Linked DNA regions of Homo sapiens. The protein of the gene in region 2 interacts with the protein of the main gene of each other region in a biochemical or structural test. Each region holds a gene or a part of one and is shown on either strand. Other genes may lie near its edges. The genes, in order: CCL25 and ACKR4.

Region 1 (15,872 bases), on a different chromosome or scaffold from region 2:
TATTACATATATGTTTATATATTACATATATTTATATTATATATTTATATATTTATATTATATATTTATATATTTATATTATATATTTATATATTTAGGCTGGGCGCGGTGGCTCACGCCTGTAATCTTAGCACTTTGGGAGGCCAAGGCGGGTGGGTCACGAAGTCAGGAGATCGAGACCATCCTGGCTAACATGGTGAAACCCCGTCTCTACTAAAAATACAAAAAATTAGCCCAGCGTGGTGGCGGGCGCCTGTAGTCCCAGCTACTCGGGAGGCTGAGGCAGGAGAATGGCGTGAACCCGGAAGGTGGAGCTTGCAGTGAGCCAAGATCGCGCCACTGCACTCCAGCCTGGGCAACAGAGTGAGACTCCATCTCAAAAAAAAATAATAATAAATATATATATTTATATATTATATATTATTTATACATTATATATACTTTATATTATATATTATTTATATATTATATATTTATATATTATATATTATTTTTATATATTATATGTATTTATATATTATATATTATTTATATATTATATATAATATATTTACTTATATATATTATATATTTATATATTATATATTTACTTATATATATTATATATATTTATATATTATATATTTACTTATATATTATATATATTTATATATTATATATTTACTTATATATTATATATATTTATATATTATATATTTACTTATATATATTATATATATTTATATATTATATATTTACTTATATATTATATATGTTTATATATTATATATTTACTTATATATATTTTATATGTATATATAGAGAGAGACACACACACACAATGTCAGAATTCAGTAGAATTACAGGACAACCACCCGGTCCCTGCTGGAGAATTGCTGGCTTTGGGGGGCCCTGGAGCTCTTGGGCCACTCCCCTGGGGCTTTACTTTCTCACTTGCTGTGGTGTCTTTGCGCTGAGTCACAGCAGTGGACAGCCACCGAGGACCCTCCCCTGTGAATCTGCGGCACTGACCGCACAACCACCTCTCCTGGGTCCTGGAGGTGAATCTCCTGTCCCAGTGTGAGCCAATCACGAGCCCTCAACCCTCAGCAAAGGTGATGGATGGGAGACAGTCACATGACCAAGAGTCCTTACCTGAATTAGCTGATATCAGGAGGGAGACATTCCTCTTACTGCTGCTGATGGGATTGCTAAACTTGGACGATGATAACTTGGAGTTTCCAGAACTCAACTTCTTTACAGCATGAGGGCCTGCTGGAGAAATGGAGAGAGAAATAAGCAAGAGCTCTGCCATCATCCTTTGAGCTCCTGGATCCAGCTGAGCCTGAAGCTGTTGACTGGTTATTTAAGCCAATGAGTCTCCCATGTGCTTGAGCTTTCCATCTGTACCAGTGGAAAGTGTCCTGATTAAAAGAGCTGGACTGGCTGGGTGCAGTGGCTCATGCCTGTAGTCCCAGCACTTTGGGAGGCCAAGGCAGGTGGATTGCTTGAGTCCAGGGGTTCAAGTCCAGCCTGGGCAACATGGCACAACCTGTCTCTGCAAAATGAAAATAAAAAATTACCCAGGCATGGTGGTGTGTGCCTGTAATCCCAGCTACTTGGGAGGCTGACGTGGGAGGATTGCTTGAGCCCAGGAACACAAGGCTGCAGTGAGATGTGATTGTGCCACTGCACTCCAGCCTGGGTGACAAGAGTAAAACCCTGTCTCAAAATAATAATAATAATAATGAGCTGGAGCCAGGCATGGTGGTTCATGCCTATAATCCCAGTGCTTTGGGAGGCCAAGGCGGGCAGATCATCTGAGGTCAGGAGTTCGAGACCAGCCTGGCCAACATGGTGAAACCCCGTCTCTACTAAAAATACAAAAATTAGCCAGGCGTGGTGGCGTGGGCCTGTGCTCCTGCTACTTAGGGGGCTGAGGCGGGAGAATCGCTTGAATTCAGGAGGCAGAGGTTGCAGTGAGCCGAGATCGTGCCACTGCACTCCAGCCTGGATGACACAGCAAGACTCCATCTCAAAAAATAAAAATAAAAAATAAAATAACAATGAGCTGGATTAGTGGAGCATGCCTGTAGTCCCAGCTACTCAGGAGGCTGAGGTAGGAGGATTGCTTGAGCCTGGGAGGTCAAGGCTTCAGTGAGCTGTGATGGCGCCATTGCACTCCAGCGTGGGTGACACAGTAAGACTCTGTCTCAAAATAATAATAAAAGAGCTGGACTGGTGGCACACACTTGTAATCCCAGCTACTTGGGGAATCTGAAGTGGGAGGATTGCTTGAACCCACAAGTTTGAGGCCGCAGTGAGCTATGATCATGCTACTGCACTCCAGCCTGGGCAACAGAGCAAGACCCCATCTCCAGAAACAAAAACTGGACAATGACTCAATCAGTTGGTCATTCACTTGGTGCCCCACTCACCAGCAACTGGCTTTGTTTGGGGTTCAGGCAGGTGTCAGTATTCTGGTCTCCAATTCCCTCCCTCGGGGTCTGAACCACACATGGGCTTGCAGGCAGGGAGGGCAGGCCCCCTAGATGCCCAGCAGAGGTCTTGCCCACCTTGGAAGGTCTGCGTGTTGTGGTGGAGCTTTGCAAAAACCTTATTTCGAGCATCCAGGAGCTTCATGGCTCTCTGCACCTCCCTGCTTTTGGGGTTCCCACACACCTTCCTGTGTCTCTTGGGGAGGTAGAATCTGTGGTGAGCAGAGGGGGGTGCCCAGGTTAGGGTGTAGGCTGGCAGCAAGGCTGTGTGTGCACCCCACCCCCCCAGCCCCCACGGCCCCACTCACATCGCAGCAGGCAGATTGCAGCTCCCGCTCACCTCCTGGATCCGGTAAGTCCAGGCGCGCCGGAGCACAGCCCACCCAATGGGGTAGTGGTAGGCCAGGCAGCAGTCCTCAAAGACACCTGCAACCACACAGCCGCCCAGATACTCGCACCCTTGCATGTTAACTTGGCAGGGCCAGCCACAGGCAAGGGCACCTGTCTGCATACCTGTCTGCTCATACCACAACCCTTCCAGGCCCGGCAGAGGCTGAGGAACAGCCTTAGGAAAGAAAAAGCCTCCTGGCTCACCCCTTATCCCTGGATATTGGGACAGCCAGAGGTTGGAGAGGACCCTTGGGTCCCGGCTGGGAAGGGTGTGGAACCAGCAAATGAACGGACCAAGGCCACCTCTACTCCTGCTCTGGGGAAAAGGGTGACTCGGAGTGCAGGTGCACTGTGAGGAGGGGCCAACACCACCCCTCCCCAGCCAAGTTCTTCCCTCCTAAAAATGAGCTGATTGGCAGCTCAGCACAGTGGCTCATGCCTGTAAACCCAGCACTTTGGGAGGCTGAGGTGGGTGGATCACCTGAGGTCAGGAGTTTGAGACTAGCCTGGCCAATATGGTGAAACCCCGTCTCTACTAAAAAATATAAAAATTAGGCCGGGCGCGGTGGCTCATGCCTTTAATCCCAGCACTTTGGGAGGCCAAGGTGGGCGGATCACGAGGTCAGGAGATTGAGACCATCCTGGCTAACACGGTGAAACCCCGTCTCTACTAAAAATATAAAAATTAGCCGGGTGTGGTGGTGGGCGCCTGGAGTCCCAGCTACTCGGGAGGCTGAGGCAGGAGAATGGCGTGAACCCGGGAGGCAGAGCTTGCAGTGAGCCGAGATCGCGCCACTGCACTCCAGCCTGGGCGACAGAGTGAGACACCGTCTCAAAACAAAACAAAACAAAAAACAAAAATTAGCCAGGCATGGTGGTGGGCGCCTTTTTTTTTTTTTTTTCCAGAGTCTCACTCTGTCACCCAGGCTGGAGTGCAGTGGCTCAATTTCAGCTCACTGCAACCTCTGCCTCCCGGGTTCAAGCGATTCTCCTGCCTCAGCCTCCCGAGTAGCTGGGATTACAGGCGCCCGCCACCACGACCAGCTAATTTTTGTATTTTTAGTAGAGACGGGGTTTCACCATGTTGGCCAGGATGGTCTTGATCTCTTGACCTTGTGATCCACCCGCCTTGGCCTCTCAAAGTGCTGGGATTACAGGCGTGAGCCACTGTGCCTGGCTGATAGTGGGCGCTTTTAATCCCAGCTACTCTGGAGGCTGAGGCAGGAGAATCACTTGAACCCAGGAGGTGGAGGTTGCAGTGAGCCGAGATCACGCCATTGCACTCCAGCCTGGGCGACAATAGCAAAACTCTGTCTCAATGAAACAAAACAAAACACCAACCAAACAAACAAAAAATTGTTTTAATACAAAGTAAAGAGCTCTCAGTAAATGTCAATGTCTAGACAAGCAGAGATGAAACACACAGATGAATTAGACCTAGTGTTGTCTTCAGGGAGCTCCCGGGAAACTGATCTCTGCAGAAAGGGGGAAGCACAGGCACTGTGGGGGGTGCCCAGAGGAGGAGGAGGTGATGCCAGAAAGTTCTGGGGGGATGAGCAGGTGGAATGAATGAGCCGAGGATGAGCTGATGAGATAGTGGAGGAAGCTGGGGTGCAATTCTCTGCCTAAATGGCCTTTGGAGTTCTCTGCAATCTCACCTCTGCCAGAACTAACCTCCAGAGGCCGAGTCTGAGTCCCTGCAGAGCCCAGCCCAGCAGGAGCAGGGAAAGGGAGGACTCGAGCCCTCCAGGTGTCTCCCAACCGCGGCCTCTGAGGGCAAGGGGCAGCGCATTCTGTTGGAACCTCGGACTGCAGTGCCAGGCAGGTAGTTCCCAAGGCTGGAGGCCAGGATCGAAGGGCTGGGCTGGGCCTGGCTCTGATAGCAAAACAATCAGACCACAGCCCAACCCCCTTCCCAGGCAAAGGCCAAGGACTTGGACCCATCAGACCCAGCCGAGGGGCAGGTGGGTCAGGTGGGGGCAGACAGGGAAGGAGGGTGGGACCCTGGGTCTGCCGCCCAGCCAGGGACCCTGCTTTGGCCAGCTGCTGAAACTCAGAGGATGTAGGACCCAGTGTCAGGGCTCCCGTGGGGACACCCCAGGCCCAGGAATTGTCCTTTGGCGACTGAAATCCTCAAGTGCTTGCTCTGCGGTAGGGAGTGGGGAAGAAGGAAAGAGTTCCCTATTAATAACAGGAACAGTTACTATTGCCGCCGCCAGACATGAGGCCTAGTCTTTTGCAGGCATGAGCTCACTGGACCCTCAAGTCAGAGCCATGCAGTGGGAATTTTAGATTCCCACTTTGCAGCTGAGGAAACGGAGGCTCCTAAAGGTTTAGGAAGCCGGGCACAGTGGCTCAAACCTGTAATCCTAGCACTTTGGGAGGCTGAGGCAGGCGGATCGCCTGAGATCAGGAGATCGAGACTACTCTGGCCAACATAGTGAAACCCCATCTCTACTAAAAAATACAAAAATTAGCCGGGCATGGTACACACGCCTGTAGTCCCAGCTACTTGGGAGGCTGAGGCAGAAGGATCGCTTGAGCCCAGGAGGCGGAGGTTGCAGTGAGCCAAGATCGCGCCACTGCACTCCAGCCAGGGTGACAGAGTGAGACTCTGTCTCAAAAAAAAAAAAAAAAAAATGGTTTAGGAGCAACTAACTCTCAGCTGGACTGCATGGAGGGACCAGGATGGGAATCCACTCTTGTCAGTCTCCAGGGCCCTGATCTCCAACCCCACCCCTGGCTCGGCAGGATTAGGATTCTACAATACATCCCTGGCAGTAACTGGCTTTGCCCACAGCTGGAAGCCACCCTCTGCTCCCTCACATCTTTAGGAGTCTTGCAAAAGACTCCATGGGGCTCTCGAAGAAGGAACTGGGGACTCTCCATCTCCCCGACCCCATCCCAAGAGCTAACCAAACACCAGGAGTTCCTGCATGTCAGGAGCGGGAGAATTCAGTGGAGATGGGATTGGGGAGACTTCCGGAGGAGATAAGAGACAAAAGGGGTGGGGTGGGGGCATGGGGAGAGGGGCACTTGGTGGTAGGCATTGCCGAACACAGTACCTTGGGTGTGGACAGCGGGGGCCCAGGCTCCCAGGAAGCCGGCCACCAGGCAGGCCAGGAGCCACAGGTTCATGCTGCAGGCGGGTCCTCCTCCCTGGGCACCTGGACGAATAACGGGGCCACCTGGGGTCGTGGAGGGAAGTGGTAAGGACTGAGGAAGAGGAGGGGAGTGGGTACTGGGAACATCCCCCCTCTTAAGCCCCAGGCATATGGCAAGGGAAGGAGGTTGTATAAAGTAGGAACAAGTTGTGCTGGAGGGAAAAGCTGTTCATCTCAGTCATGTTCAAGGAAAAGACTCACCGATATCCACTGGGTCAAGGGAGCTGATGCCCGCCGGGCTGTAGGCCAAGCTGTCCCATCTGCAGGACCAACACGCTGAGCTTCACTCTTTATAGACAGAGCCCCACCCAGCCACCCCCTGCCCGCCCTCCTCCCTTCCTCCTCCTCTCCACCTGCACTCTCAGCCTCTGGAATTCTCCCTCTTCTACAGCAAGCTCCAACCTCGACCCACAGGCCCCCTTGCCTCCCCACTCCCCATCCCAGGCCTCCCAGCCAGCACCCCTACTGTCTCCAGAAAGGGCCTTTTCCCCTGTTTCCCTCACCTGCACACACCTGGTGGACACTGGCTGCCTGCGAACAAGGCTCAGACTGCCTTGAGCCCCCAAACAAGCCCTTACCTTCATGCTCCCCCCGCCCTCAAGCCACCTGTTCCCTGGTGGGTCCCCAACTTCACTCCATTTCCCTCTCCTTCCACACCATGGTTAGGTAACTTAGCATGTCACAGAAATCCTCTGGTTGTGATCACAGGCAAATCCATAGAAACAGAAAGTAAATTAGCGGTGGCCACAGGATGGGGGGAGGGGAGAATGAAGGACTGACTGTGAGAGGGTATGGGTTTCCTTTTGTTCTGAAATTAGATGAGAGTGATGGTTACATAACTCTATGAATATAGTCAGCACGGCACAATGGTGCACCTCCCACCGGTGAACAACCCCAACAAGAAAGAAACTCTCTAGGCCAGGCATGGTGGCTCATGTCTGTAAGCCCAACACTTTGGGAGGCCGAGGCCAGAGGATTGCTTGAGCCCAGGAGCTCAAGACCACCCCGGGCAATATAGAGAGACCTGCGTCACTACAAAAATTTTTTAAAAAATTAGCCTGACGTAGTAGTGCATACCTGTAGTCCCAGCCACTCAGGAGGCTGAGGTGTGAGGATTGCTTGAGCCTTGGAGGTTGAGGCTGCAGTGAGCTGTGATCATGCCACTGCACTCCAGCCTGGGCAACAGAGCAAGACCCTGTCTCAAAAAATGGAAAAAAAAACGGTGGCCGGACACAGTGGCTCACACCTGTAATACCAGCACTTTGGGAGGCCGAGGCAGGCGGATCCTCTGAGGTCAGGAGTTCGAGACCAGCCTGGCCAACATGGCAAAACCCCATCTCTACTAAAATTACAAAAATTAGCCGAGTGTGGTGGGGGGGCACCTGTAATTCCAGCTACTCAGGAGGCTGAGGCAGGAGAATCGCTTGAACCCGGGAGGCGGAGGTTGCAGTGAGCCGAGATTGGGCCACTGCATTCCAGCCTGGGCGACAAGAGTGAAACTCTGTCTCAAAAAAAAAAAAAAAAAAAAAAACAAAAGAAAAAGAAAAAATGGAAGAAATGTTTTGTTTTTGGAAGAAAAGCCAGGAGCCCCGGGTAGCCATGCCCTCAGGAAGCAAAGCAACATTCACCGAGAAGGCATGTCTTTTTTTTTTTTCTTCTGAGACGGAGTCTTGCTCTTTTGCCCAGGCTGGAGTGCGGTGGCGCTGTCTCGGCTCACTGCAAGCTCCGTCTCCCGGGTTCACGCCATTCTCCTGCCTCAGCCTCCCGAGTAGCTGGGACTACAGGCTCCCGCCACCACGCCTGGCTAATTTTTTGTATTTTTAGTAGAGACGGGGTTTCACCATGTTAGCCAGGATGGGAGAAGGCATGTCTTCTTTCCCTGGGGCAGCAGGACCCAGCCAGGACACAGGGACTGGGGGAGACACGAGGTGAAGATTAGGGAGGGCGAAAGGAGCGCTGCAGAGGCCGCACAGCTGATTGCTTTAAACTTTTTATCGCCTGCATCCATAGCTACATCTGACCTCTGTGGGTATTTATCACATCCTAAACTCCTTTCTCATTTCTCCCCTTCCACTGGGAGCCCAGAGGCGGCGGCCCCTAGCCTACTTCCCTGTCCCAAACCACATGGCCGGGTGAGTGGGGCTTAGAGGTGGGGCCGGGCCTGGTGGGTGTGGCTTCTAGCCGGGGACGTGACTAGATAAATGACACTTAGAGCCCAGGGGCAGGGCTGGGTGGGCGTGGCTTATGGCTATGGGCGGGGCTTGCTATATGGCTCCGAGTCAGGGGCAGGGCAGAGTGAGTGGGATTTAAGACAGTGGGCGGAGCCTGACAGATGGCGCTTATGGTAAGGGGCCGGGCTTTGTAGGAGGGGCTTAGACTGGGGCGGGGCTTGCACGGTCAGCCCCGCCCCACCAGAGCAGTTAAGACGCGTCGGGGGCAGGTGCTCTCACCCGTCCCGTTGCTGCGGCCAGTGGCAGCCCACGGGCCGGGGCGCTGTTCCAGTTCCTCCGCCTCTTGCTCTGGGTGGGTGAGGCTGGACCAGGACGCGGCTCCGCGTGGCTGCGAGCGTGGGGAAGCGGCGTGGCGGGCTGGGGCCAGCCTCTCCGCTACGGCTCACTGCCCCCTACCTTCCCAACCCGCGGGCCGCGGCCAAGACGGTGTTACCCAGACTTGGGGGAGGTCCCCAACGTGAGTCTCCCTCCCTGCCTCACCCCTCACTGTTTGTCCCGCCGGCAGCCTTCACGGGGAGGAAGGGTTCCCAGTAAGGGGGCCCTCCAGGGACCAGCAAGCACGGAGCACTGGGGTGGGCGCGCTGGGGACCTGGGACCCAGGGGTTGGAGCAAGAAACGGGATGATCCCGGAGTTCTGAGGACCACAGTTGCTTTGAGTAAAGGCCAGACCTTCACAGTCGGGGCTGGACTGGCCTCTTCCACTCCTGCAGCAGCTGGGGGCATTAAGAGTAATCCGCTATCGGCCGGGAGCAGTGGTTCACACTTGTAATCCCAGCACTTTGGGAGGCCGAGGCGGGCGGATCACCTGAGGTCAGGAGTTCGAGATCAGCCTGGCCAACATGGTGAAACCCCATCTCTACTAAAAATACAAAAAAAAAAAAAAAATAGCCGGGCATGGTGGTGCGCACCTGTAATCCCAGCTACTTGGGAGGCTGAGGCAGGAGAATTGCTTGAACCCAGGAAGTGGAAGTTGCAGTGAGCCAAGATCTTGCCATTGCACTCCAGCCTGGGCAACAAGAGCAAAACTCCATCTCATAAAAAAATAAAAGAGCAGTCCGCTATCAGCAAGGGTCCTCTTCTCCGCCAGTGTGAAATCAGCACAGCTGGGGGGAACAAGTGCCCCCCACACCGACTTCTGTTCTGCACCTCTGATGATGGGAGCAGTTGAGGGTGGTCTCCATCCTGTAGCTCAGCCAAATTCAGAGACCAATACCCCAGAGCCTGCAGGGTTGGGTGGGTAGGCAGGTGTCTTTCTAGACAAGCCCAGTTGGTTGCAGTGGCCAGGTGGTGGGCAGGGGCGATGAGATGTTCTGGGAAGCCTGCACCAGCCACCACCACATCTGCCCTACCCAGTGGCAGGCACCTCTAGTGGGATGAAGGATGCTCCTGGGTGCTCACCATTGGCCCAACTGTGCAAAGGAGGAGATTGAGGGTCAGAGAAGCCAAGTTACTTACTTTTTTTGTTGGCCAGGAAAATCTAATTTTTATTTCTTAAATACTGTGAAGAAAAGGACAGTCCCCCAATGGGGAAGCGCCATAGAGCAGATGACTGGGAGGTCATCGGCAAAGGCTCAGGGGCACTGGGAGAACACTATGGGCAGAAGTGGGGGTCCTCCTGTAGTCACTTTTGCATATCAGACCCCAGCTGCCTGCAGCTCTCCTGAACTCTGGTGCCTCCAGGTCCCTGATGAGACTCTTGGCTTCTGATGGGCCCCCACTGCCCTGCATGGTCACGAGTCTTGTAGGGAGCAATCCACACCCCAGGAGCCCCGTCTGCCAGGCCTGGACTCCTGTTGTACCCACAGCTGCCTCTTTTTTTTTTTTTTTTCGAGACAGAGTCTTGCTCTGTTGCCCAGGCTGGAGTGCAGTGGCAGGATCTTGGCTTACTGCAACCTCCACCTCCCGGGTTGAAGCGATTCTCCTGCCTCAGCCTCCCGAGTAGCTGGGACTACAGGCGCCTACCACCATGTCTGGCTAATTTTTGTATTTTTAGGAGAGACTACATTTCACTATGTTGCCCAGGCTGGTCTCGAACTCCTGACCTCAAGTGACCTGCTGGCCTTGGCCTCCCAAAGTGCTGGGATTACAGGCTTGAGCCACCATGCCCAGCCTCCAGTTACCTCTTTTTAAAGAGAATTTGGTTATTTGAAAGATCTTTCTTCTTTTTTATGTAGGCATTTATTTATTGCTATAAACTTCCCTCTTAGAACCACTTTTGCTGCATTCATTGGTTTAGGTATATTGTATGTCCATTTCAGTTTGTCTCAAGTTTTTTGTTGTTGTTGTTTCTGTTTGTTTTATTTTGTTTTTAGAAACATCTCCCTCTATCACCCAGGCTGAGTGCAGTGGCACAATCGTAGCTCACTGCAGCCTCCAACTCAAGTGTTCCTCCCACCTTAGCCTCCCAAATAACTGGGACTACAGGTGAGCATCACCATGCCTGGCTAATTATTTTTATTTTTTGTAGAGATGGGGGGAGCGTCTCACTATGTTGCCCAGGCTGGTCTTGAACTCCTGGCTTCAGGTGATCCTCCTGCCTCAGCCACCAAAGTGTTGGGATTACAGGCGTGAGCCACTGCACCTGGCCTCAAGATATTTTTTAATTTCGTTTTAATTTCTTCTTTGACACATTGGTTGTTTAGGAGAGTGTTGTTGAATTCTCACGTGTGAATTTTCCAGAATTCCTCCTGTTATTGATCTCTAGTTTCGTATCACTGTGGTCAGAAAAGATACTTGATACAATCGCAATCTTACATTTGTTTTTTTGTTGTTGTTGTTGAGACGGAGTCTCACTCTGTTGCCCAGGCTGGAGTGCAGTGGCACCATCTCGGCTCACTGCAAGCTCCACCTCCCGGGTTCACGCCATTCTCCTGCCTCAGCCTCCCAAGTAGCTGGGACTACAGGCGCCCGCCACCACCACACCTGGCTAATTTTTTGTATTTTTAGTAGAGACGGGGTTTCACCATGTTGGTCAGGCTGGTCTCGATCTCCTGACCTCGTCATCCACCCGCCTTGACCTCCCAAAGTGCTGGGATTACAAGTGTGAGCCACCGCACCTGGCAATCTTACATTTGTTCAGGCTTGCTTTGTGGTCTAACATGATCTATCCTGGAGTATGTCCCCTGTGCACTTGAGGAGAATGTGCGTTCCGCTGCTGTCAAATGGAATGTTCTACATATGTCATTAGTTCCATTTGATCTACAGTGCATTTCAAATCCAATGTTTCCTTACTGATTATCTGCCTGGATCTGTTCGTTGCCTTTTTTTTTTTTTTTTTTTTTTTTAGACAGAGTCTCAGTTTGTCCACCAGGCTGGAGTACAGTGATGTTGTTATGGCTCACTGCAGCCTTGAACTCCTGGGCTCCAGCAATCCTCCTGCCTCAGCCTCCCAAGTAGCTGGGACTACAGATATGCACCACCACAACCCACAAATGTATATTTTTAATTTTGTGGCCTGTTGCCCAGGCTGGTGTTCATTGTTGAAAGTGCAGTACTATTCCTGTATTGCAGTTCAGATCTGTTCATATTTCCTTTATATATATTTCCTTTATATATTTAGGTGCTCTGATGTTAGGTGCATATATATATAATTGTTTTATCCTCTTGATGAACTGACCCCTTTTTCATTCTATAATGACCTTCTTCCTCTCATGTTAGAGTTTTGACTTAAAAAATATTTTATCTGATACAAGTACAGCTACCCCTGATCTCTTTCGGTTTTCATTTTCAAAGAATATCTTTTTGCCTCCCTTCACTTTCAGTCTATGTGTGTCTTTAAACCAGCTGCCTCTTGCTTTGGTCCAGATGCATAGTGGTTGCCCAGCAACCGGAGGAGGAGAAGGAGGAGGAGGAGGAGGAAGAGGAGGAGGAAGAGGAGGAGGAGGAGGAGGAGGAGAAGGAGGAGGAGAAGGAGGAGGAGAAGGAGGATGGGGAGGAGAAGGAGGAGGGGGAAGAGGAGGAGGGGGAGAAGGAGGAGGGGGAGGAGAAGGAGGAGGGGGAGGAGAAGGGGGGGGAGGAGAAGGAGGAGTGGGAAGAGAAGGAGGAGGAGGGGGAGGAGGAGGATGGGGAGGAGGAGGAGAAGGAGGAGGAAGGAAGAAGGGTTTTTCCAGGATGTCTTGCAAGCCCTTGGCCTGATGTTCGAGAATTTGGTTAACTCTAACCTGAACCCTAAGTCCCTGATGTAGCTGGCTCTGCTGGCTCCTGGAAAGTCAGTTCTGAGGGGATCCCCACCCCAGGCTAACCTGAGGCCTCTGTCTTCCAGGGGACAGCTGTAGCAGTGGCCTGGGCAGGGGCCGTGGTTCTCCAGAGGGATTCAGACTACTGGTATTACCGAGCTCATGACCTTGGCTTTCATCCTTGTACTTGTCCTGCCCCTGCAGGATGTGCGGGGGCCAGACAGCTGGGAAGAGTGACTGCCTGATCCTGGCCCTGCTGCCTTGGGCTAGAGGAGGGGTTGCATGGAGAGAGAGGGTGGCAGGCCTTGGGGAGAGGGTCCCATAGGGTCCTGAGTCCCTCTTTGAACGTGCTGAGCTCTACTCACCCTTTCCACATCTGTTTTCTGAGTATCCCTTATGTTCCAGCCACATGCGGGGCCCCAGGGTGCCCCAGGGTGACAGCAGTGAGCAAGCCGACACATTGCAACTATCAAAGATGATGATCGCTGGCTGGGCGTGGTGGCTCACACCTATAATCCCAACACTTTGAGAGGCCAAGGCAAGAGGATCACTTGAGCCCAGGAGTTCGAAACCAGCCTGGGCAACATAGTAAGACCCCCATTTCTACAAAAAAAAAAAAAAATTTTTTTTTTTTAAATAGCCAGGCAAAGTGACCGGCATCTATAGTCCCAGTTACTCAGGAGACTGGGGCAGGAGGATTGCTTGATCCCAGGAGTTCAAGGCTGCAGTGAGCTATGATTGCACCACTGCCTTCCAGCCTGGGCAACAGAGTAAGAACTCATCTCAAAAAAAAAAAAAAATGATGATGTTGATGTCACAGATGCCTCATGGAACATCTATGTGGGACCATTTGTTATTCATTCAATAAACACTTATTGAGCACCCTCTATGTGCCCAGCACTGAGCTGGGTGCTGGGGACAAGCAGTGAAGGAGTCAGTCCCACGTGCTCAGTGCCTAGTAGCATTGCAGACAAGAGAAGCAGCAAGTAATGAAGCAAGACATTCAGATGTGACTTTCTGCTGACAAGGAAAAACAAATTTTAATTTAAAAAAAATTTAAAAACAATTTTCAGATGAGGATCACTGTCACCAATGCTGGTGTGATTGGAAGAGACTAGGGATGGGCTGGATGCCGTTTTTTTTTTTTTTTTTTTTTTTTTTTTTTGAGACAGGGTCTCACTGTGTCACCCTGGCTGGAGTGCAGTGGTGCGATCTCGGCTCACTGCAACCTCCACCTCCTGGGCTCAAGTGATTCTCCCACTTCAGCCTCCTAAGTATTACAGGCATGTACCACCACGCCCAGCTAGTGGATGCCTTTAAAGAGAGTGGCTTGAGGTAACAAGAACCTTATTAGGTTAAAATTCATTCCTACTTTATAGGGAAAGAACAATCAACCGAGGCTGAGAGAGGTTACATTGCTTGACCAAGTAACTTGACTAAGTCGCTTGTCTCTAAACAAATTAATTAAGTAAGTAAAAACAGGTGCCCAGTGATGTGCAGAGAGCTGGAGACAGAAGGCAGATAATACCACTCTCCAAGTGGCCCTCACAGCTAATAGGAGGATTTTTTTTTCAAGATAATGTCTCTGATTTGTTTTTGGTTTTGGGTTTTTTTTTGTTTTTTGGTTTGTTTGTTTGTTTGTTTTTTGAAACAGAGTCTCACTCTGTTGCCAAGGCTGGAGTGCAGTGGTGCGATCTTGGCTCACTGCAACCTTCGCCTCCCAGGCTCAAGCAATTCTCCTGCCTCAGCCTCCCCAGTAGCTGGGATTACAGGCACGCACCACCACACCCGGCTAATTTTTGTATTTTTAGTAGAGATGGGGTCTCACCATGTTGGCCAGGCTGGTTCGAACTCCTGACCTCAAGCGATCCGCCTACCTTGGCCTCCCAAAGTGCTGGGATTACAGGCATGAACCACTGTGCCTGGCCGAGATAATGTTCCTGTTGCCCAGGCTGGAGTGCGGTGGTATGATCACAGCTCTCTGTAGTCTTGACCTCTGGATTCAAGCGATCCCCCTGCCTCAGCCCCACAAGTAGCTGGGACTACAGGCACATGCCATCATGCCCGACTAATTTTGTAACTTTTTGTAGAAACAGGGTCTCCTTATGTGGCCCAGGCTGGTCTTGAACTCCTGGGCTCAAGGGATCATCCCGCCTTGGCCTCCCAAAGTGCTGGGATTACAGGCCTGAGCCACCTTGCTCTGCCTTAGGCTGCCATGTCTCCTGATCAGACATTCCTGGAGGAACATCTGCATCAGGCTGTGGGGATGTGAAGGGCATCCCACCTGTCTCCAGGGGGACCTGCAGCTGAATGGTGACCTGAAGGACAACCTCGTGTTAGTCAGAGACCAGCAGGGCAGGACGCTAGAGGGAACTGCCAAGTGCAGAGTATCTGGGGCAGGAGGTGCGGGGGTGGATAGCGGAAGATGAGGTAGGCAGGGAGAAGCTATTTGGAGCCTCACGTGCCAAGCCCAGAAGGGTGACCTTCATCCAGAGGCCAAGAAGAAGCTGCCGAAAAGATTTATTTATTTTTATTTTTATTTTTGAGACAGAGTCCTGCGGCCCAGGCTGGAGTGCAGTGGCGTGATCTCGGCTCGCTGCAACCTCTGCCTCTTGGGTTCAAGCAATTCTCCTGCCTCAGCCTCCCGAGTAGCTGGGATTACAGACCCGTGCCATCACGCAGAGCTAATTTTTGTAATTTTAGTAGAGACGGGGTTTCACCATGTTGGCCAGGCTGGTCTCGAACTCCTGACCTCAGGTGATCCGCCCGCCTTGGCCTCCCAAAGTGCTGGGATTACAGGCATGAGCCACCGCACCCACCCTGAATAGATGTATTTAGTCAGGGGAGGGTTGTGGTCAGGTCTGCATCTGAGCTCTGCCAAGGTCATCTGGAAGATGCCGCAGAGGGTGAGGTGAGGGCAGGGAGATTCAACAGCCCAGGCATGGTAGGGCATGGTAGTGTGGACCTGTTGTCACAGCTATTCGGGAGGCTGAGGCAAGAGGACTGCTCGAGCTTAGGAGTTCAAGGTTGCAGTGGGCTATGATTGCACCACAGCACTCCAGCCTGGGCGACAGTTAGACTCTGCCTCTGAAAAAAATAAAAACAGGATGGGGCGCAGTGGCTCACACCTGTAATCCCAGCACTTTGGGAGGCCGAGGCGGGTGGATCATTTGAGGTCAAGAGTTCGAGACCAGCCTGACCAACATGGTGAAACCCCTGTCCCTACCAAAAATACAAAAATTAACCAGGCATGGTGACGGGTGCCTGTAATCCTAGCTACTCGGGAGGCTGAGGCAGGAGAATCACTTGAACCCGGGAGGTGGAGGTTGCAGTGAGCCAAGATTGCGCTGCGTGCTGCACTGCAGGCTGGGTGACAGAGCGAGACTCAGTCTCAAAAAATAATTAATTAAAAATAAAAAAAGAAAGTGGCATGCT
Region 2 (15,236 bases):
GATAAAATTAAGGGCTGGAGTCTCAGTAGGACATGCAATGTTAATTGTTCTCCGGGAGCATTGCAATCACTTCTAGCAGGGCATATTTGCAATACAGCAGGCAAGGTTTAGGCCAGTAAATTTTTTCCTTCAGTTCTAATTGAGTTAGATGTCATTAGTGCCATTCTTCATTGGGATGAACTGAAGAAGAGTCTGTGATTCAGAACAAGTTGAATAAATATGCACCAAATGCCCTGTACTTGTAAATATTTATGACATGCTGTCAGTATAAATTATATTTACTATATATTTCAAAATATTTTTGTTAGCAAACATTTGCTTTAAAAAGATGCATTTCTATACTCTCTACATAAAGTTGTGGATTTCATACTGATAAATTTTCAAATGCAAAACAAATACTCCTTCTTTATGTGTAGACACAGGGAATATGGAGGTTCTGCACCTGTATGGAAGTGAGGAACAGAAGAAACAGTGGCTTGAGCCTCTTCTTCAAGGGAACATTACCTCTTGCTTCTGTATGACAGGTAAATGCCAATCACCATTCTCTCCTTGTGTAGTCAGTCGTCCCGGAGTTATTATGGATGAGCTGAAGAAATACAGGATGTGGTTCTGTGTTTCAGTCAAATTTGCCATTGGCCAAAAATGTGAGTATGTTTATTTTGAGCCTGTTATTAAATTTTGGCATTTTCAAATGTTCAGAAAAATATGATCCTCTCCTTTGTTAGAATATCAGATGATGTTCTCTAGTAGCCTGCTATAGCATTAGTAGCAGAGTAAACTTAGTTTCACAATTTTTTGATGTCATTACTAAAATTGCTATATATGAATATTTAAGATCTTCTTTGCCCTTATGTATGAAATATCTATCTTTGTGATAATTTTATATTGATACTTATAAAATATTCAACTCTTCCATAAACCCAGAAAAATAGAAATTTCACCAGTACTGGACATATGGCTCAAATTATAATCATGTGGGAAAATAAAGGAACATGTCAATAAAAACAGATTTAATATCATTTGTACATAGAAAGCATTAAGAACTCTTCAATAGAAAAAAATCATTGTTTTGTGATTTAGTTTAGAATTATACCAAATTTTGCTTGTCCATAATTTTTAAGTGCTTTCAATAATGGCCAGATTTTATTGTTTTGTATAACATAGCATACATTTATACAGTACTCCTCTTTTATCTGAAGGGGATACGTTCTAAGACTCCCAGTGGGTGTCTGAAAACTGGGATAGTCCTGAATGCTATTTAGACTATGTTTTTTCTTATACATATGTACCTATGATACAGTTTAATCTCTAAATTAGGCATAGTAAGACATTAATAATAACTAATAATAAAATAGAACAATTATAACAATACTCAGAATGGTACACTATTTAAAAATTACAAATTGTTTACTTCTGGAATTTTTCACTTAATATTTTTGGAATGCAGTTGGCCTCATAACTGAAACCTCAGACAGCAAAACTACAGATAACAGGGGACTACTATAATAGCAGAACTGATCTCCGTTTAAATCAGTAATAGGCATTTATTGAATACCTACAGTAGGATGTATTGTCTACAAAGCACTAGGTGGGGTTTACAAAATAAGTAGAATACACAGCCCTCTTTCTAAAAAAGAAAAAAAATAAGTCTTAAGTTTTAGAAACAGAACACATGGGATATCTGAAGGACTCATTTAAAGGGGTGTCATATTAGCAAGTGCAGATTGCTATGATTGAGAGCTAGACAGTTCTGAAGTGCCATGCAATAAAGCAGTTGTCTAAGGGTGTCCCATGGAGAACTTTCTGAAGACCTTAAGTGTTGAACAGGCTTTAAAGAATGCAAAGTATATAAATCAGTGAAGGCATTCCTGATGGAATTTGCAAGGCACATTAGAAATTGCTTAAGACAGTAAACTATATGGGGGGAATCTGTCTTGCCAATCAATATTTAGTACATATCTCCATTGTGAGAAGTAGAAAACAATACTTTTATCTACATTTGCTGATTGGAGAAAGGACTGGGTTGTATCCCAAATCATATATCAGTGAGGAAGCCAAAAATACAGTTCAAAATACTGATCCCCAATGTTCAGTATACTTCATTCATTCACTCATTCTTTCAGTGCACGTTTATTGAATACTGTGTGTAGGTTATGGGAAAAGCAGGGTGGAATGGGGAGTGAAAGGACATTGAAAAAGATAAAGATGTCTTTGTTTTTAAAGTTTTCATATCCTTATCTAAGTCTACTGATGATATCTGCCTGCCTGTAAATTCAGCTTTTGTTTATTTATAGAACCTGATGTAGCTTCAAGTGATGCCACGAATATTGAATGCAGCATCCAACGAGATGAAGATAGCTATGTAATTAACGGCAAAAAATGGTGGAGCAGTGGTGAGTGTTCAGCCTAATTTTTTCACCTAACACACTGATCCTTTGTTCCAGATGCTATGCTAGAATATTGCTATGATACATAGTGATCAGTTTCATGATCATAATTCTTTAAATTCTGCATGTGTAGGCCAGGTGCGGTGGCTAACACCTGTAATCCCAGCACTTTGGGAGGCTGAGGCAGGTGGATCACCTGAGGCCAGGAGTTCAAGACCAACCTGGCCAACATGGTGAAGCCCTGTCTCTACTAAAAATACAAAAATTAGCCAGGTGTGGTGACAGGCACCTGTAATCCCAACTACTCAGGAGGCTGAGGCAGGAGATTTGCTTGACCCCGGGTGGCGGAAGTTGACATGCGCTGAGATGGCACCACTGTACTTCACCCTGGGCAACAAGAGCGAAACTCTGTCTCAAAAAAATGAAAAAATAATTAATTAATTCTGCATGTGAAAGCATTTTCAAACTTAGAAATAGTGGTTGAAAGAAAAAGTAATTTTAAAATAACATATGTTGGTTAGGTGATGTTTAAGAGCAGAAAACATGTCATTTTTTGTAGTTTTAGAGATAAAATTCATTAGTGCATACTATTTTTGACCAATGTAATTGCTAGCAAAATTTAATTTTAGTAGGAGCATATTACATGGATTATAATAATTTACAGCAAATTTTTTTAAAAAAGATAAGCTGTACATGTTAATTAACAATAATTTATTGTGGTACATATTTTTATTACTCAAAAATAAAGTGTTTAAATGAAAATAGGACATTTTATGCATGGGATAATGTATTTTTTAGTCAATCGGCAGTGGTAGACTTGTATAAACAGATGAATTCTTTAGGAAGTTAAGAAATTGGAACCCAGATGAAAATGATAGTCTGAGGATTACACCTAGACTATATATGATAAACCTAACATTTGTCATGATAACCAGTTATTAGTAAGAAAGTTGACATCATAGAAGCAAATTATGTCTTTAGGAACTTACCAGGAATGTTTTGAAAAGAATCAGAAAAGCTTATTATAGTTTGTTTTTTTTTTATTGCTTTTTTGGAGGAGGTGGATTTTATAAAATTACTTACAAATTTAAAAAAAACAGGAAAAAAGATAGTTGGAGTTCTGCTGCATACTTATTCAAGTACTAAAATTATGCAGGGAAATCGTTCTTGTATTAAAACTTAGATAATTAAAAATAATTATAAATGCCTTTTAACATGAACCTCTTTAATAATCTGTTTTAGATGGCCTAACTTATAGCATAGTGGGTTTTTTTTTAACTTGTTTTATTTTGAAATTATTATAAATTCACAGGAAGTTACAAAGATGGTACAGAGTGGTCCTGGGTACCCTTCACCCAGTTTTCCCCAATGGTTCCATCTTACATAATTATACTATAATGTCAAAACCAGGAAATTGAAATTGGTACAATGTGTGTATATAGTTCTGTGTCATTTTATCACTTGTGTAGATTTGTATAAGCACCACTGCAACCAAGATACAAAATTATCACCACAAAGCTCTTCTTCGTTACAGCAGAGTGTTATTCACTTATGCCTGTTACAATTATTTTCCTATATTGTTCATTTTAATTTTCATGTTTTGTACATTTATTATCTTGTTTCCTCTTCTTGGCTTTTATTTCTCCCCCTTCCCCCAACCCATTCTTTATTATAAGTTGCAACCACGGCGTCTGAGATTTGAGTTTCAGAATAATGCAGATGTTTTATTTGAGGGGAAAGCATCATTCATATGTATCCAAGCAAAAGGCAGAGCAGTTTTACCTTTAAATGCTAAAAGTACTGGTTGGCTCTGTAGGACCCTCAGAATCAAAAGGAAACTCCTCCACACTTTGTCTCTGTCTTCTCCAGGACCCATATTTCTTGGCCACTTTCATAACGTAGTTTTTGAAAGATGCTCCCATAAAAACATAAAGGATTGGGTTGAGGCAGCTGTGAAAGAGTGCGATGCTTTCTGTGACTTGGATGGCGATGTCCATGCGTTTGCTCATGTTGCAGCTGGTGATCAGGGAGTAGATGATGTCTATGGCTCGGCAGAACTTGACAATGTTATAAGGCAGTTGAGTGACAATGAAAACTATAACGACTGTGAGCAGAACTTTTAGGGGTCGAGATATTTTAATGTTTGGCATCTTCATGAGTGTCCTTGCTGTGATAAAGTAGCACACCCCCATAATAAGAAAGGGTACTACAAATCCAATGCAGATCTCTAGCATTTGAATCAATGCTTTCATTGATGTTCCTAGGTAGCGGGGGAAAATGGGAATGCACCTAGCATTGTCATTTACTGTATAAAAAACCAGCTGGGGTATGCTCAGCAAGATGGCAGCCATCCAGACACAGAAACAGATGATCCAGCATGGTTTTCCCACTCCTGATTGGCTGGGGACTTTAGTTACTGCCACATATCTGTCTATGCTGATACAAGCCAGAAACTGCATTCCAGAGACAAAGTTTAGTGTGTACAAGGCTGAAGTTATTTTGCACATTATTTTCCCTAAAACCCACCCATGAACTGCATTAACAGCCCAAAAAGGCAGAGTGAATAGAAGGAGTAAATCTGCTACAGCCAAATTCAGGATGTACACATCTGTTTTGGTTCTCTGTTTCTTGTAATAGGCATAAATTGCCACTACCATGGAATTGCCTGCAAGTCCAATGACGAAAACTATTGTGAGGAATACAGGGAGGAAAACTTTTGCAAATTCTCTGACATCTTCTTTGATACAGATCAGTTCATATTGACTGTAGTCATAAGTGCCATTCATTTCATTTTCCTCATAATAATAATCTGTTGACTGGTTCTGTTCCAAAGCCATGGCTCCAATCTAGATGGCAAAGAGAATACAGGATAGATATTTGTCTAAATATGCTTAAAAGGAAACAGTTTTTATCAAGCTGTTTTGTTCTTTCCCTAGAGTATAGCCTGTTGCTGTAACATATGTGAGCCTGAATCTAGCACTCTTTGAAATGCTTTAATGGGAGCCACATTGGAATATGACCCCAAGATTAGTTACTCAAACTTTGCTTGTACAATTCTGTGTGAAAGAGCTTGGATTTGAACAGGACAATAAACATAATGCCCTGGAGAATTTTCTTAATCATTAAATCCTAAATAAAAGTGAAGACTTTTATGTAAAAATGATTTTTAAAATATGAAAATTTAATTAGATTTTAACTAAAAAGAATAAATAGTGTTATAATCTTTACATACATAATTTTGTGAATCGTAAAAGTATATCTACAACAAATTGAATAAAAACGAAAATAGCAAATTACTTGGTTTATTTAAATTAAATTTATTTTTTATTTTGATGTTATTTATAAATTTAATTTAAATAAGTTAAATAAATTCTCTCAGCATTTGCACTAAATTTCACTAGTTGCCTTTTATAAAACAAGATCTCCTTTAGCCAACTTCCCTCCAAAACTGGTCACTACTTGCTTATTGTATACTGTTTTTTAGTAGCACCACTATCTTCTAATCATCTAAGCTGTAAGCCTGCTTCATTCTTGTCTTCTCTCTTACCTTCATCCCTGCTTCCCAATCAGTTCCCAAGTTCTGATTCTGCCTTCCAAGTAGGTCTTGAATCTGTCTTCTCCTCTTAATCTGCACTCTTCCACACATTTGCACAATTCAGCTATTATGTTTCTCACCTAGCCTACTGCAATATCTTTCTTTTTTAATATTTAATATTTAATTTTTTTTTTGAGATGGAGTCTCATTCTGTTGCCCAGGCTGGAATGCAGTGGACAATCTCGGCTCACTGCAACCTCCGCCTCCCGGGTTCATGCGATTCTCCTGCCTCAGCCTCCCAAGTAGCTGGGATTACAGGTACACACCACCATGCCTGGCTAATTTTTTCTATTTTTAGTAGAGATGGGGTTTCACTATGTTGGCCAGACTGTTCTCGCACTCCTGACCTCGTGATCCACCTGCCTCGGCCTCCCAAAGTGCTGGGATTACAGGCGTGAGCCACCGAGCCCAGCCTATTTTTAAATTTTAATCCATTTATTTATTTATTTATTGACCAGGTTATGAGTCTGTATAACTTTTTGTATTTTTGATAGAGACGGGGTTTTGCCAGGTTGCCAAGGCTGGTCTCAAACTCCTGGGCTCAAGCAATCTACCTGCCTTGGCCTCGCAAAGAGTTGGAGTAACAGGCATGAGCCACTGCACCTGGCCAAGCAGTATCTTTCTAACTGATAGCCTGTTGTTACTCCTCCTCAATACCTCCTTTTCAAAAACGTTTTTCTTACTTCCACCAGAGTATTTGATCTCTAAATTGCCAATCTACCTCTCCTCTGTTTTGTTCCTCATCTGGAAGACACATCTCTTCACCTGAAAGCCACAATCCAAGCTCCTTAGCATAACACCCAAGGCTCCCTTCATAATGTGGTGCCATCCATGGCTCCTGCCACCTCTCCCTACTCTGTGTCCACACTAGAGACAGTGATAGGACTAATTTCTCAGCAGTGGGCTGGCACCCACCATGCAGCAGCATCTGTCTACATCATTGCTCATTCTGTTCCTTTATCTACCATACAATTTCCTGCCCTTCCCTGGAAGGGCCAATTCCTACTCAATAAACGCGGATGCGACCTCCCCAGAAGACTTTCCTGATGTATTAGCAATCTCTACATACCCCTCAGAGAACTGATCCATTCTGTGGAAAGGATGCGTTTCCCATACTACCTTGTTCCTCTAGGTTTTAAGTTCCTCAAAGCATGACCTATTTGATTTGTGTTTGTAAATAAAATCTTGTTAATGTGCCTGGCACAAAGTAGCTTCTCAGTAAATATTTGTCAAATTAAAGCTTTTGCCAACAGGTATAAAGCTGTTACTCTAGAATGGATAGATAGTATGCCAGAAATCTTCTATGTCAACATTGTTATTGCACTATGTTGGCTACTAGCACCCCGTAGTATTAAGATAAGCTTGCACAGAATTCGTAAGTTTTGGAATGTATAAAATAATGACTTTCAGTGTTTTTATTATAGTGCTGAATTTTGTTTTCCTTTTTCTTATCCTTTCTATTTTCCTTGGGTTCTTTTTGTCCTCTGAAGTATCTCAAATATTCTTATAGAATCAATAATGAAAATATTATTTTTAAAACAGTGTGCCAACTTATAGTACATTTTCAAAAGAAATGTTCTTATGTTTGCTAACTTTTTTTGAATGAATATAGCAAAGAAAAGAAGGCTCTGAAGAAAGACACCACATAGAAGAATTGCTTTCATTATGTAAAAACCGGGTGCCAACTTTTTTAAATGACTCTTTTTATCATTAAAGTTACTTAAAAAGTTCCAATCTGGAAGACTACTCTGGTCTTCATGTTCTTATGCATTAATTATTAACACAGTATGAACCTTGTTCTTCCTTTCTCTTTCATCAGAAAATCTTGAACCTGATGATAAGAAATAATATGGCCAAATATTATAATATATTAAGGAAGGGAATTTTTAAGTAAGAATTAATCTTACTAAAAATGTGAGTAAAAAAGAGTAGAAATGGAATTATTTGCAGAAATGATCCTTCCGGCAGATATATAGACACGCTTTTAAGTGTCTTTATAATTACCATGAGAATAAAAAAAAAATCAGTACTTGTAAAAGAAAGTGAAAAAAAGTGGTATAATAAAACCTATTTTCTCCTTAACAAAGTTTTACCGACAAGTAATGGCATTTAAAATCGTATTTTCTTCTTGCTATATTAAGATTTTCATTTAAGGTTAAACTGTACAGCTATTTTCAAGTAACCCTTTTTTTTTTTTTTACAAGTAAGCATTTAAACTTTTATGCATCAAGACTCCATCTATATAAGTAAATATACAAGATCTTTGGGCTTAAAAAAATATTCAAGTCAGAATAAGAAAAGAAATAAAGTACCAACCTGTTGTAGTCGGCAGAGAGGAGCAGTCTTGAGTACAGAGTATAAAATCAAATGACCTAACTCCAGCTACTTTTGTTTTCACTTTACACCCCGCCTTTATCTTGTATCCAAGAAGGCTTTCCTGAAATTTAACCTTGTGAGCACTTGATATTTTATTTCCTGTAAAACCATCTGTGAAGTTAAATTCAACTTCTTAAGTGGTTTAGGTTACAAATTTGAGAAAATCCATCTTTTTTCAAAAACTATAGACCTTTCATAGTTTCCACTTAGTCAAAGGGGACAAGAAAGTGCCTGCAGCTGAGCTACTGACTGCTGAACCAGAAGGAGAATCCACCTGAGGGCATCTAGGCAGCACTTGTAGGTAGCATCTAGAGAAATACTCTCTAAAGTTATTTTGCCTAAGGAAGAAAGCAAATATGATTTTAACCAAGGAAAATATCTTTTTGAAGACTAAATTATCAAAGATTAAATTATAAGTAATCATTAGGTATTTGCAATAGAATTTAACATTTTTATGCCACATCATTTAATATTTATTTAAACTACTAGAGTCTTCCTGGCTTCACTGTACTTTCTCTATCCTTGTCCCAGAGTATTTTCCCATGGCTTTAAACTCTCTTGCTTTCTTGTTACCTTTTTTCCCAAAGCTAGAATATGAACCTTCAAAATCCTTCAGTCTGGGAGGCTGTTTATTTTTTCCACATTTCCACACAAGTAAGTTAGAGAAAGAAGAGAAATTTATGCTGATTTGGCCCTCATGGTCTATTTGAACTTGGCTTTCCTCAAATTTGCATGGCAGTTATCTATTTTTTCATGCAAGGCCAGGCTCAGTCTCCACCTGCAGAAATTATTTCAGACCCATGCCATTTTTTCTATTTTTCTCTTTTTTAAAAAAAAACTTTTAAGTTCAGGGGTACACATGCAAGTTTGTTACACAGGTAAACATGTATCATGGGGGTTTGTTGTGCAGATTATTTTATCACCCAGGTATTGAGCCTAGTACCCATTAGTTATTTTTCCTGATCCTCTTTCTCTACCACCCTCTACCCTTTGATAGGCCCCAGTGTGTTTCCCTCCATGTGTCCATGTGTTCTCATCTTAGCTCCCACTTATAAGTGAGAACATGCAGTATTTAGCTTTCTGTCCCTTTGTTAGTTTGCTAAGGATAATGGTCTCCAGCTCCATCCACGTGCCTGCAAAGAACATGATCTCATTCTTTTTTATGGCTACATAGTATTCCATGCTGTATATGTACCACATTTTCTTTGTCCAGTCTATCATTGATGGGCAAATATTTAGGTTGATTCCATGTCTTTGCTATTGTGCATAGTGCTGCAATGGACATATGCATGCATGTGTCTTTATAATAGAATAATTTATATTCCTTTGGGTATATACCCAGTAATGGAATTGTTGGCTCGAATGATATTTCTGTCTTTAGGTCTTTGAGGAATTGCCACACTGTTTTCTACACTCCCACCAACAGTTTGTAAGTGCTCCTTTTTCTTCACAACCTCACCAGCAGCTGTAATTTTTTGAGTTTTTAATAATAGCCATTTTGACTGGTGTGAGATGGTATCTCATTGTGATTTTGATTTGCATTTCTCTAATGATCAGTGATGTTTAGCTTTTTTTCATATGATTGTTGGCGGTATGTATGTCTTCTTTTGAGAACTGTCTGTTCACATCCTTTGCCCACTTTTTAATAGGGTTGTTTTTAATTGTAAATTTAAATTTCTTATAGATGCTGGATATTAGACCTTTGTCAGATGCATAGTTTGCAAAGATTTTCTCCCATTCTGTAAGTTGTCTCTTTACTCTGTTGATAGTTTCTTTTGCTGTGCAGAAGCTCTTCAGTTTAATTAGGTCCCATTTGTCAATTTTTGCTTCTATTGCAATTGCTTCATCATGAACTCTCATAGTAGTCTACAAGATCCCACAAGGTCTGCCTCCATCCCTCATTGTCTCTCTGACCTCATTTCACACTACTCACCCCTTTGCCTACTTGTTCTGCCATACCCAGCTTCTTGCTGTTTGAGAGCATACCAGTCACAATCCTATCAGGGCTTTTGTGCTGGCTCTTCTGTCTGCTGGAATGTGCTCTGTCTTAGTAATTGCAAAGCTCACTTCCTCTTCTCTTTCAAGTCTTTGCCCAATCACCACCAGCTCACTGAGGCAATTCTTCACTACTCTACTTAAAATAACCCTCATCCATCTGGACTCCCAGTCCACCAGACCCATAGCACTTAACATGTTCTAATGCACCATATCATTTATGCTGTGATTGCTGTAATTTGTCTTTCACCCTGTATTAGAACATAAGCTTCATCAGAACAGGGACTTTTGTTTGCTTTGTTCATTGATATATCCCGAGTACCAAGAATAATACCTGACACATAATGACTACTCAAAAATATTTTGAATTAATAAAAACATTCTACTGTCCATTTTGATTATTATCTAACAACTGGTCTGCAACTGCAGCCTCCATAATTATCAGATAATAATCTCTTTGATCTTTCTATATGATACACAATACTGACTTTTAGGCATTTGCAAGTACTATTATTCCTGTCTAGAGCACTCTTCCCACCCTATTTTAGTTCCCTAACTCCTATTTACAATTCAGATTTAGGTCTGACCTTAACATTAATCCAGGAAGCCTTCCATAACTCTTTCAGATTAGATCAGATATACCAGTCTTTTCACTGTATTGTTGGTACTTATTTAAATTTTCTATCTTCCATAGCTATCTTATACCCTGCTGTATCCTCAGCATTTGGCTTGGTACCTTACTCATGGTACCAGCTTAATGAATAATGATTAAATTCATGAATCAATCAACTGATATTTAAGTAACTTATCCTCCACAGACATAAAGTTTAGCAATGGAGCTGGAGTTCTAAATTCAGATCTTTAGTCTATTTTATCATCTTATCTCTTATATCTCTTTATTTTATGATGCCATCTATTATAGAATCTTGATACTCTTTTATAGATTCAAAAGTATCTATCCCTTTCCTTTATTTACCCCACCCCCAACAACCATAAGCTTTTTTGTAAATGGGATTCCTTTATTGCAAATCGGTTGTAATGCTATAATCTTTACATCTTTTGAATTTACACATTGTTTTTGCTAATTCAGACACATACAAAGCCCTTGAGGCATAGGGGATCTCAGGATTGAGCAGCTTCCTCTGGTAGCGTGTGTATGAATGCTGTGTATAAATCATAGTGTATGAATCATGGTGAAACTAGCTGACTGGCTGGCCTTTTCCTGTATTTTCCCTTTTCTCCTGATAGAACTAGGAGAGACAGTGGTAATAGGGAAATTTGACAAAATACGTGAAATAATCATGTAGCTTAGAGGGTAGGCAGAAGCATCACTCACCTTAGGCAACTTTTCAAAGTACTTACTTGATGCTTCTTTAGCTCTCTTCTACTTCTCATATTCCTTAGAACTGACTATGATTCCATTTTGCTGCTTACCATAAATTGGCTCCTACTCTTAACCTCCCTAACATAGCAATGTCCCTTGTTCTTGAAGAATCTCTCTCCCCACACCCTCTTCTCATCCCTCCTCTTGTACTGTCATTTTGCTATGTTGCCCAGCCTGGCCTCCAACTCCTAGACTCAAACAATCCACCCATCCTGGCCAACAAAAGTGCTGGGATGAATCTGTAATTTTGATGAATATTGCCAAATTGTATTCCATAGGGATGGTATTACTTTGTTCTCTACCAATAATGTATAGAAATGTCTGTTTTTCTAAAATATTGTCAATAGAATGTGTTGTTTTACTACCACTTTGCTTTCTAAATGACTTGTAACAAATTCAGCACCCCTTACCTACCCTTGCCAGGCATGTGTGGAATACTGGATAATAAACTGCTTTTGAATGTTTTCATTATTGCTGTACTCCACGTTTATTTGATTAGTGGTAAAGTTAAGCAATTTTAAAAATCTCTTTTATTATTCTTATTTCCTCTTTTTGCAATTGTGTTCTTTGCCCATCTGTATACTGATTTTTAGGTGTTCTTTATAATTTAGGGAGCTAAGTATTGCATACATTTTGTCATAAATGTTGAAACATTCCCCCCCAATTTTTTTTTGCTTTTAAATTTTATTTTCTAATGTACAGCAGTTTTATATAGACAAACCAATTGATCTTTGTCTGATTTTGATTTCATTTATCATTTTTAAGTTTTAAAATCCTTTCTCACCCAGAGATTTAATAAATATTATATTATTTTTCTTCTAGTTTTTTTATGTCTTGGTTTTTTTTAATTTTCAACTCTGCTCTATTTGGGATTTATTTTGATCTAACCATTTTCTATAGTAACAACAGTAATAGCAGCAGCTTGTAACATTATTACTTAATTCTTATTATTTAGATGTAAACCTAGAGATGGATTCAGTGAATTTTGAAGATTTCCCTGTTAAAAATAACACACACTCTAAGAGAACACATGGGATTTTTTTTCTTTAACTGTGGGATTGTACAATGAACATCTTTTTTCATATAAGGGAAATTTTATTGTAAAATAGTACTTACTCCAATTTGAATTGTTAGTATTAAAGCTAAAACCAAATGAAGTTCAGGTGTTCTACCTCAGAAATTCTATGTTGGTAGAAGAAACGGCCTTGAGAATTTGTGGATGGCTATCTATGCTTCATAGTATGTAATTGTTTACATCACTTTCTTAATTGTTACAAACCACACTATACTCAAAGGTCATGTTTTTTTATCCACCTATCATCTCTCCTTTTGTTAGAAAATGATTTTGTGGGTAAAAGCCTAAGAAATTAAAAATCATCAACTAACATCAGGGAGATGTAATTTTTAGCCTGACTTAATCCTGGCACTTGAACAGCCTTGAAATACCACAGTGTCTGGATTAAAAACAAAATTACTTTATCTAAGCCATCTGTTTTCATTCATGAAGGCCTGTGACACAGCATATATGTTTAAATGTTCTCTGTTCTATTCAGATTTCCTCTAATATATTTTATTTATGACATTGGGTATCTTGTTCATTAACTAAAATGACACAAACAAGCAAAACTCTCTATAAAAGAAGGTTGTTTCAACTGCTGCACTTGCCAAATTCTGCTTGTAGCTAAGGGGAGATGATATCTTTGGGAAGGGTTTTTCTCATTTTTCTGAAACATCATTGTTAAATACAAATATTTCAAATTCTACAAACTATGTATTCACCCTTACTTCCTCTACTTCATGATGACAACAGACATCCAACTTAAAAATTGTATTTTTTAGAATATTAATTGTTCTCCATATAAGATTGAGGAAGACAGAATCAAAGAATTATTTGCCTTACTTCTTGAGTTTCTTCAAAATTTACCTGGTATCGGAAATCTATTGGGCATTTATATAAGGCTGTGGCAACATTTTTGTTTCTTTGCTTTGTTTGGAGACAAAATCTCACTCTATTGCCTAGGCTAGAATGCAGTGGCATGATCACGGCTCACTGCAACCTTGACTTCCCGGGGCTCAAGCAGTCCTGCCATCTCAACATCCCGAGTAGCTGGGACTACAGATGTGCTGCACCGTGCTTGGTGAATTTTTAAATTTTTTTGTATAGACGAGGTGTCGCTAGGTTGCCCGGGCTGGTTTCAAACTCTTGAGCTCAAGCGATCCTGCCACTTCAGCCTCCCAAAATTCTGGGATTACAGATATGAGTCATCATGCCCGGCCAACATTTTTAAATGATAGAAAGAATGAGGTAAGAAGTAATATTGGGAAATATTAGATACAAAATTATATATTCTGAATATTCGAAAAAGAGGGCTTTAGACCAGGGTTCAAAGGAATTAGAAGATTTTACTTCAGCTCACTGATGCTGGATAGCTAGCATCAGTGAAACCTTGAAAGATTTACCCAGATGTTCTTGATTGCCAGAATGGAAAGTAGAGAAAGAAAAATATCTCTGAAAATGGGCACATAGACCAATGGAACAGAATAGAGCCCAGAAATAAGGCTGCTCACCTATGACCATCTGATCTTTGACAAGGCTGACAAAAACAAGCAGTGGGGAAAAGACTCCCTATTCTATAGATAGTGCTGGGATAACTGGCTAGCCATATGCAGAAGATTGAAGCTGGACCCGTACCTTACACCATATACAAAAGTTAATTCAAAATGAATTAGAGACTTAAATGTAAAACCCAAAACTATAAAAACCCTGGAAGATGACCTAGGCAATACTGTCCTAGACATAGGGGTGGGCAAAGGGTACATGACAAAGACACCAAAGGCAATCACAGCAAAAGCAAAAATTGACAAGTGAGATCTAATTAAACTTAAGAGCTTCTGCATAGCAAAAGAAACTATCAGCAGAGTGAGCAGACAACCTACAGAATGGAAGAAAATATTTGCAAACTATGTATCTGACAAAGGTCCAATATCCAGCATCTATAAGGAACTTGAACAAATTTACAAGAGAAAAACAATCTCATTAAAAAGTGGGCGAATGACATGAACAGAAACTTTTCAAAGGAAGATATATATGCAGCCAACAAAATATGAAAGAAACCTCAATATCACTGATCATTAGAGAAATGCAAATCAAAATCACAATGAGATACCATCTCACGCCAGTCAGGATGGCTATTATTAAAAAGTCAAAAAATAACAGATGCGGGTGAGGTTGTAGAAAAAAAGGAACACTTAATACACTGTTGGTGGGAGTGTGAATTAGTTCAACCATTGTGGAAAGCAGTATGGAGATTCCCCAGAGAGCTAAATACAGAACTACTGGCCGGGCACGGTGGATCATGCCTGTAATCCCAGCACTTTGGGGGGCTAAGGCGGGAGGATCACTTGAGGCGAGGAGTTTGAGACCAGCCTGGCCAACATGGCAAAACCCCAAAATACAAAAATTAGCCAAGCATGGTGGCCATGCCTGTAATCCCAGCTA

What was found.
Region 1: the proteins of ACKR4 (region 2) and CCL25 form a complex in vitro, tested with the Homo sapiens proteins (one study listed by BioGRID).

What each region holds. Positions count from the first base shown.
Region 1 is NC_000019.10:8,043,183-8,059,054, reverse strand, and holds the start of CCL25 (C-C motif chemokine 25 isoform 1 precursor), read right to left. Parts: upstream 6,296-15,872; 5' UTR 6,292-6,295; coding exon of another isoform or gene 6,233-6,291; intron 6,056-6,232; coding exon of another isoform or gene 6,006-6,055; coding exon 5,933-6,005; intron 5,014-5,932; coding exon of another isoform or gene 4,943-5,013; exon of another isoform or gene 4,213-4,942; intron 2,904-4,212; coding exon 2,786-2,903; intron 2,690-2,785; coding exon 2,556-2,689; intron 1,255-2,555; coding exon 1,135-1,254; intron 1-1,134. UniProt on the Homo sapiens protein: Potentially involved in T-cell development. Recombinant protein shows chemotactic activity on thymocytes, macrophages, THP-1 cells, and dendritics cells but is inactive on peripheral blood lymphocytes and neutrophils. Binds to CCR9.
Region 2 is NC_000003.12:132,590,386-132,605,621, reverse strand, and holds ACKR4 (atypical chemokine receptor 4), read right to left. Parts: upstream 8,353-15,236; 5' UTR 8,299-8,352; intron 5,486-8,298; exon of another isoform or gene 5,234-5,485; 5' UTR 5,225-5,233; coding exon 4,172-5,224; 3' UTR 2,978-4,171; downstream 1-2,977. Other genes in the region: ACAD11 (acyl-CoA dehydrogenase family member 11), read left to right, coding at 417-524, 2,295-2,393. UniProt on the Homo sapiens protein: Atypical chemokine receptor that controls chemokine levels and localization via high-affinity chemokine binding that is uncoupled from classic ligand-driven signal transduction cascades, resulting instead in chemokine sequestration, degradation, or transcytosis.